Linked DNA regions of Homo sapiens. The protein of the gene in region 2 purifies or fractionates together with the protein of the main gene of each other region. This does not show direct contact. Each region holds a gene or a part of one and is shown on either strand. Other genes may lie near its edges.

Region 1 (3,800 bases), on a different chromosome or scaffold from region 2:
TTTAGGATGGAGATAGTAGAAATGTTGTCAGATTTAAAAACTCCCTCTCCTTTTCTATAAAATTAATATATTTTTTAAAAGAATAGCTGTAGAAGGAAATTGTCCAGTACATATATATTTTATGATTAGTACTTAGAGTATAGATTTCATTTGACTGTAGATTTCTTCTGTATACATATATCATTAATATAAAGCAAATTTAAACATGTAATCCTTTACTGTTATATTAATTCAGCTTCTGAATATACTCGTAAAACTAAACAAGATATATGCCTCCTAAAGATGTGACAATTTATATAAAAACTTCATTTAAACAACTTTTATCTTCATTTTTCACTAATATTTCCAACAGCTAGTCTCATATATAGACATATATAAAATGCACTTAGAATTGCTTACTTACATAAGTATGTTTTTCTTTCATGTAATCACACAAATTACAGTGTGACTATATGCTTTATCCTTAAAAGAAATCTGATATCAAATATGAAAGAGTGACATCTGCTGTTTTTCATGCTCAGCATCCAATGCCACTGCTTATGGTCAGAGGACCATTATTTTTCTTTTTTTTTTTTTTTTGAGACGGAGTCTCATTCTGTTGCCAGGCTGGAGTGCAGTGGCGTGATCTCCACTCACTACAACCTCCACTTTCTGGGTTCAAGCGATTCTCCTGCCTCAGCCTCCCAAGTAGCTGGGATTACAGGCACATGCCACTACACCCAGCTAATGTTTTCGTATTTTGAGTAGAGATGGGGGTCTCACCATGTTGGCCAGGATGGTCTCGATCTCCTGACCTTGTGATCCGCCCACCTTGGCCTCCCAAAGTGCTGGGATTACAGGCATGAGCTACTGAGATTACAGGCGTGAGCCACCACGCCCGGCCAGGATCGTTATTTTTCTTTAGGGTACCACTCCTCTTTCTCTTGCCCTCTTCAGTTTCAGTGGCAATGGTCTCAGTCTATTTCTGGGACTTCAGGAGGAAGCATTGAGCAGTACATTCCATACCCCTGACCACAGTGGTTCATGGCTTAACAATGATACTCAATCCTGGGACTTTTATTGGAGCCAGTGGGCAAGAGAAGCTCTATAGCAGCTGAAAATATGTAAGACTGGATTCTAGGAACTGCTGGTGGCCATAACACTGCATGGTAAAGCCAAGAAAAGATAAAAGCAGAACTGAACAAGGGATAAAATCTTGATGACATCAATTAAGCCACTGATCCAGTTGTGCGTGAGGCAGATTACTGCTAGACTTTTAAGTTATGTGAGCCGATAAATTTATTTTATTTGGTTAAGCTGCTTGCATTTGGTTCCTTTTTACGATGACCAAGTTTCCTAATTAATATATATCATCTTTCATATAGTTAATGTTACCTTTTCATTTGGTTTTCACACACACACAAATGATGTATACCAACTAGCTATATGCAAATGATAATTGCTTTGGTCCGTTGTGGTGGCTCACGCCTGTAATCCCAGCACTTTGGGAGGCCAAGGCGGGCAGATCACTTGAGGTCAGGAGTTCGAGACTAACCTGGCCAACATGGTGAGACCCGTCTCTACTGAAAATACAAAAATTAGCCAGGCGTGGTAGCACACTCCTAAAATTCCAGCTACTCAGGAGGCTAAGGCATTAGAATCACTTGGGCCTGGGAGGAGGAGGTTGCAGTGAGCTGAGATTGAGACACTGCACTCCAGCCTGGGCTGATGAGTGAGACCCTGTCTCAAAACAAATAAAAAAAAAGATAATTTTTTTTTCTAGAAAGATAAATAATACACCCTTACTACTTTGATCTCAATTATGTTTTAGAAATCATGACATTTCTATTAGTCTTTAATCTTAACAGATGATATTTAGTAAACACATAGTGCCAGGTACTATAGAATGACTCAAATGGTTATCTTCTTTTAATCATCATAACAATTCAATAAAGTAAGTGCTATTATTTTCATTCCTCAGAAAAGAAAACTGAAGTTCAGAGAGTTAAGCAACCAGCTAGGGTCACACAGCTGGTAAGTCACAGAGCCAGGATTGAAACATTAGTACATCTGCCTCCAAAGCACATACTTCTACACTACCTCCATACACATATATTTTATTCAGGCATCCGAAAAACATCTGTTGAGTACCTATTATGTGCAAAACTATGTTTTAGGTCCTTGCAGGCTACATACAAAGATATTTAAAATTAGACTGTCCATGAAAATAAAGTTTAACTTAGAGAAATAAGTTTGTATAAAAATTATTAGAGGCCGGGCTTGGTGGCTCATGCCTGTAATACCAGTACTTTGGGAGGCTGAGGCAGGCAGATCACGAGGTCAAGAGATCAAGACCATCCTGGCCAACACGGTGAAACTAGTCTCTACTAAAAATACAAAAATTAGCTGGGCGTGGTGGCACATGCCTGTAGTCCCAACTACTCGGGAGGTTGAGGCAGGAGAATCACTTGAACCCAGGAGGTGGCGGTTGCAGTGAGCCAAGATCGTGCCACTGCACTCCAGAATGGCAACAAAGCAAGACTCTGTCTCAAAAAAAGAATAAAATAAAAAATAAAAAATTATTATATACTTTAAGCAGATAACAATAAATATCACAGACAAGTAAGAAAAAATGCTATGGAAACAGAGAAGAGAATCAAGGGAGAATCAAAGAAGGCTTCAAAAATGTAGCTACTGCAGGATGCAGTAGCTTGCACCTATAATCCCAGCTACTGGGGAGGCTGAGGCAGGAGGATTGCTTGAAGCCAGGAGTTTGAGACCAGCTTGGGCAACACAGTGAGACTCTCTTAAAAAAAAAAAAGTAGCTATTAAGTTGGACCTTAAAGGATAAACAGTTTTGAATCTTAAGAAAAAATACTCAAAGACACAGAATGATAAAAGAGCAAAGGTCTGCTATTATAAAAGTATATAATATGCTAGGGGCATGTTGAATTGTCTGCTATGATTAATGTGTGAGGTTCATTGTGGTACTTCAAAATGGGAGTAATTATTACAGGTTTAGACACAGATAAGCTTCCTTGGACGGTACAGTGAAAAACCTCCACAGAATGGATGTTAAAAACCAATTAGATTTCTGAAGAGTTCTTGGTTCTAAAAGGCTGAATTCTGAGGTAAAATTATGTTTTTAGAATAATACTGTTATTATCCTAAAATAACAAGAGAAGCAAGAGGTATTCTACTTCTTGCTCTCTAGTTGAGACTTTACCATGCTAAGTTTTTAGAACTTAGGAGAAAACCACAATAATCTGCTTAGGGAAAGAACCTTAAGAGGCAGAGGCAGAGAAAGAATAATGAGCTCTCTCCCAGACAAATAACACAAAGCAAAAAAAACAAAAACACACACACACACACACACACACACACACACACAAAACAAACAACCTACAGGCCAGGTGTGGTGGCTCACGCCTATAATCCCAGCACTTTAGGAGGCCAACGCAGGAGGATTGCTTGAGCTCAGGAGTTTGAGACCAGCTTGACCAACATGGTGAAACCCTGTCTACAGAAAATAAAAAAATTAGCTGGGCATGGTGGTGCATGCCTGTGGTCCCAGCTACTCAGGAGGCTGAGGTGGGAGGTCAAGGCTGCAGTAAGCCGAGATCATGCCACTGCACTCTAACCTGGGTGACAGAGTGAGATCCTGTCTCAAAACAAACAAACAAAACAAACAGCAACAACAACAAAAAAACAAAAACAAAAAACAACCTACAGATGTGAGAATGAGAATGCAAAGACTTTGAAGAAGCAGGAGGATCCAAGCTTAATGGGTAGAGGTAGAGATATTGGCCTTGCCCAAGAAG
Region 2 (5,141 bases):
CAGCACGTGCTGCTTCAAAAGTAAGTAAGTGAAACAGGTTTTTAAAGAAAAGCACCTTTAAATAGATCATGCTGTCTTATAGGTACCATGATATTTATGAAGATTCAAAGATTTTTAGAGACAGAAGATACCTTATGGTAATCTAGAACAAGTCCTTTATTATAGCAATATGAAAATTAGTCCTGGAATAATAAATGTCATACTGTATTTCTAAGGACTTTTACATCCACTTATCACTTGACCCTTACAACCCAGGACAGATAATAAACATGTTTTGTATGAGAAAACCAAACCTCTGGTTGGCTAAGAAATGTATTCAAGGTCACACAGCTAGTTAGCGGCATGGCCAGAGTACAACCATGTACCCCATTTAAAGTATAAATGTGAAATAGAGTACAACTAGTTAGCACCAGAGAGCAACCCTGTACTTCATTTAAAACATAAAGGTGAAATAGATTGATTAGAAAGAAATGACAGACTCTAGTATAAGCTTCTGTTTTATTTAGGTCACACATTGGATTTTACTGTCATAGTTTATTTAAAACACACGGAATCCTAGGATATGCTCAAGGATTCTATTTCTAACTTTAAAACTGGGGTCTGTACAATTAGCATAAGCTGATAAGTTTAGATACATTAATAGAGGGAAAAAGGAATTACATTGAAGATGTAGTGACAGGTTAGGAGTAGTAGGCACATATTATGGAAGATAAACACATAGACCCATGGAACGGCTCCTTGGGGCTCCCAGCAAAGATCAAATACTAGATTAAGGAGACTTAGTGTGGGGAGGACAGTTTTAAAAACATCCGAATCCCATCCTGAACATTTTTAGAAACCAAGACTTGACTTTGGCATCCACAATATGTTTTCATTTTGATGTTTCTGATCCATATGTATACGTTATGAGTAATCAGGAATGCAGTTTGAATTTTAGTAATTTAGTCTCCTTCTCTGTCTGTCCACTGTGTGACCACAGCTTACATTTTCCAGATGGCTAGATGAAAATAGGTGCAGTCTAAAGCTAATTGCCCTCTTCAGCTGTTTAACCCAAGATCAGTATCTTCTCATGAGTTGTGATATAAGCTGTCATATAATTTGTGATATGATGAAAATAATTTAAAAATGCAAAATTTGTAAGCTTTTAAAGTGTTGTATATTTCTAATTAAGCTTAGGATTTGAAAGTTTCAGTGACATAGTGTTTAAATAATATTTAATGCTATAAACAAAATCTAGAGTCAAAAAGCAGTTTTTCTTCCTAAGAGATTTATTTCAGAATGGCATCAAACATGACAACTGGAATGCTAAATCCTCAAATTAAGAAGACCAAAAAAAAAAAAAAAGAAAAGAAAAGAAAAGCTACATGTTGGTTAGAGCCATATATTGGTCCGACTGTGACACAGTTCCCAAACTATAGAGGAAGAAATGTGCTTTAGTCAATATGCTGCGCTTATTTTTTCGTCTACCTCATTCCTGAGATTTACTGTTTGCCTCATATTTTATTTTCACCCTCCTTTGTAAGGGTTATTAGTGTCTTCAAAATTTCCCATTTCAGTAGAAATTGAAGATTGTATGTTACTTCAGCCTTTGTTGGCTTCTGCACACCATAGTCTACGATTATCTCTCCACCATCTTCTTAAATGTTGATATTCCTTCAGTGAAGCACCGTACTAAACCTGCTTGGGATCTCCCTATCCTACAGATGTAGCATAGAGAAAACTGAAAAGAGACCTTGCCTTTGAGTAAGGCAGACCCGAGTTCAAATCCTGTTTCTTATCGACTATATGATGTTGGACAAGATAACTCTTCTTAAACCTTGTTTTAGTCTGTTAAATTTCATCATATATATATGTGTACCCAATATATAATTTTACCCATGTGCCCGTTCACCTCCCGCTGCAACTGGGAGATGCAGTGGGAGGTGGATGGGCACATGGGTAATTCAATTCCAAAATCACCAGTTATGGTGATAAAAGTTTTTTCAAAATTACTGCAGAAAATTCCTTAAAATATCTACTTAGTTGAAATACATGCATGACTTCGTACTAAACACTGTGTTGCTATTGTTATTCTTAAGCAAACTAAAATTTAAGAGCCACTAGGCTAACTAAAGGAAAGAAGCTAAGGTAAATGTCCTGACATTTAAACAAGTCTGCCTTTAATATAACTCTTAAGAGTATGGGTATTGAGAGAAGAGGTGGAGAATTCTAAAATATTTTTGCTTGCCCATAGGTTTTTCATCATGCATTTTTAGTAATAAGCCTCTATAACTAATACATGTTAATAAGCTTATTTTTTCTGAAAATCTAATTTTATGCCAACATTATAATGGTACACTATGGTAAGAATTGCTGACATTCATTGAGCTCTCATGCAGGGTTTGGTCTAATGGCTTTATATGAATTATATCTTTAATGCACCAGCCATCTCAAGTTGATGCCATTGTAAGCTTTATCTTGCAGTTGAAACGAAGGCTCAGAAAATCAAGTAATTTAAGTGACTAATCTGACTTCAGCTGCTTCTTTCAACCACCACACTAGACCCTTGTCTCTTTTTACCATCACCCCACCACTTACCATTTTGCCATATCTTTCTTGAGTGATTATATCCACCTCCGTAGCTTGTACTACTGTACAGTTGACTCTGGGCCTTCAGTCCTTTTTACCTTCCTCTTGGACTTCCACACTCTGTGAATCTAAACCGAACTCATGGTCTTTACTATTCCTTCTCAACCTTCTCATCTGTGTTTCCGGTATGAATTAATATGGGTATATCCACAATCATGTTAGCTCACTTCAGTCGTCTGTGATCATTTCCTTATCACCCACTGGCAGTGGGGGGTGGGAAGGTGGAGGATGTTTGAATCTCAACTTCTTGTACCCTTAATTACCTCATATCTTCTCCTCTTAGTGTCTGTTATCACTGCTTTAATTCATACTTTCATCATCTTACCTAAACAATTATAGCTTCCTTACTAATCTCCTTTCCTCTAGTGTCTCTTCTCATTTTTCCTTTATTTTGTCTAGAATGTGTTTCCAAAACATGAATCATGTCATGTAACTGCTTAGAACCATCCAGTTAGCTCCCTCCTGACTATAGGATATGAAGTCCAAATTCAGCGTTGCAGACTGAGTGTGAACTGGCCTCCAGCTGGTCAGTCCCACCACAATACCTGGTGCACACTGTATGCACACTGTACACACACTGCACTCTAGCCATGTCCTCCGACAGAACACTTTTTTTTAATGCTTCTTCATTTGAACGTATTTTTCGCTTTGTCTAGAACATCTGCCCCTTGCTATACATCTCCTTCTCTGCCTAGTAAACCCCCATTCAGCTTTCTGGGACTAGCTCCAATGTCATGTTTAATAATTCTTCTTCAGAGACCACCCGTTGTCCCCTATCCTTAGCCAAGTTTTTCATGGTTTTCATTTCTTAAGGCACAGTAGGCATGCTTTTATTAAAGTACATTGTATTCAATTATAATTATTTACATGTGTCTCATTCCCTACCTCACCTCCACCAAAGAAAGAAACTGGTTTTTACCTACTCTGTCTCTCTCACTTAGCTACGGCTGGTACATTATAGACATTTAGTATGTTTGTTGAAAGAAAAAATCTGTTCGTATAGGTACTTTATCATTCCAAATTATTTTTATGTTACATTTGTTAGTTTTCTACTCTGAAAGAGTAATGCTTTTGTTGTCACCTAAAACAACATCATTCTCATGTTTATCACTCTAGTCTTTACTGTCCAGTGCTTATTTCCAAATAGAATACAAGGTACAGCATTAATTTGGCCTATTAACTCACAATTTCTGTCCACTGTAAAGATTTATACTTTCTTGAACAGAGAACTAGGAGCTAGGCTCTTTTCCCAAATATGTAATAGGTGTGCAGGGAAGATCTTAGCGAAGGATTCTGTCTTTTTCTAAGACTTTCACTTGTAGGTCTCCTGCAAGTCCACAACATTTAAGTTCAAAAGATGACATAAGAGCCAACCTTTTCTGGCCGGGCACGGTGGCTCATGCCTGTAATCCCAGCACTTTGGGAGGCCAAGGCGGGTGGATCACGAGGTCAGGAGATCGAGACCATCCTGGCCAACATGATGAAACCCCATCTCTACTAAAAATACAAAAAATTAGCTGGGTGTGGTGGCACATGCCTGTAATCCCAACTCAGGAGGCTGAGGCTGGGGAATCGCTTGAACCCAGGAGGTGGGGGTTGCAGTGAGCCGAGATCGCGCCACTGCACTCCAGCCTGGTGCCAGAGCAAGACTCCGTCTCAAAAAAAAAAAAGGCCAACTTTTTCATAACAAAATTATATAAATCTTAGTCTTTACAGTTTGAAGTTGTTTCTGTGAAGATGCTTGCCTGATTAATGGAAAATCTGTTGAGGGTATCATTGTTTTGCTGGCCTGAGTTAATCACCACCCCATCACAGCTTTTACTTAAATCTTGTCTTTCCCTAGCTTTATGATTTCACAGTGTAGCTAGGTGCTCAGTTGAAGCACCCATTTTTCACCTGCACCTAAACTATTTGAAATAGCCCTGTAATTGTCCTCCTGAATACATTTTAGATCTGTTCAGGTCATTCTCATTCTTAAAATATTTCAGTGGTTCTCCTTATTTCCTTCAAAATCAATTTGATTGCAGTTTGGTTAGGGTTTGTTTCCAGACAGATTGCTCGTAACTCTTTTTTTTTTTTTTTAAGCATTCCTTGCCTCCCCCATAATGCACCATGTGCTTTGTGTTGCCTATCTTCATGCCTCTGCACAAACTGTTGTTACCTGCACCTAAAGTTCCTCCCCCATCATCTGTACCTGACACAATTGCTCCCTATTCTGTGTTCCCATGGCATTTTTACAAATACTTCTAAGTATAGAACTTATATTGCATTATGCTTCTTCGCTTATGTGCCTGTTTCTTCTCCCTCCACCCCCATCCTTCAGGATCCTCAAGCCTAGAGACTATGCCTTAGTAAGTTTGATGCTGAATTAAAATTTCAATATAAGATGACTTGCTATTTGAATACTTCAGTTTTGTTCTTAACCCTTTCTTAGTAATGGATGTTCATGTAATAGAAAGTAGAAATAAGGCCCATAAGTAATCATTAGTTAACATTTTGGCACAAAATATTGT

Evidence for each region. Proteins that work in one complex are often made in the same cells at the same time.
Region 1: the proteins of BBIP1 (region 2) and BBS7 purify together in Homo sapiens (co-immunoprecipitation; one large-scale study listed by IntAct). This does not show direct contact.

Annotation. Positions count from the first base shown.
Region 1 is NC_000004.12:121,828,675-121,832,474, forward strand, and holds part of BBS7 (BBSome complex member BBS7), read right to left. Parts: intron 55-3,800; coding exon 1-54.
Region 2 is NC_000010.11:110,908,362-110,913,502, reverse strand, and holds part of BBIP1 (BBSome-interacting protein 1), read left to right. Parts: intron 1-5,141.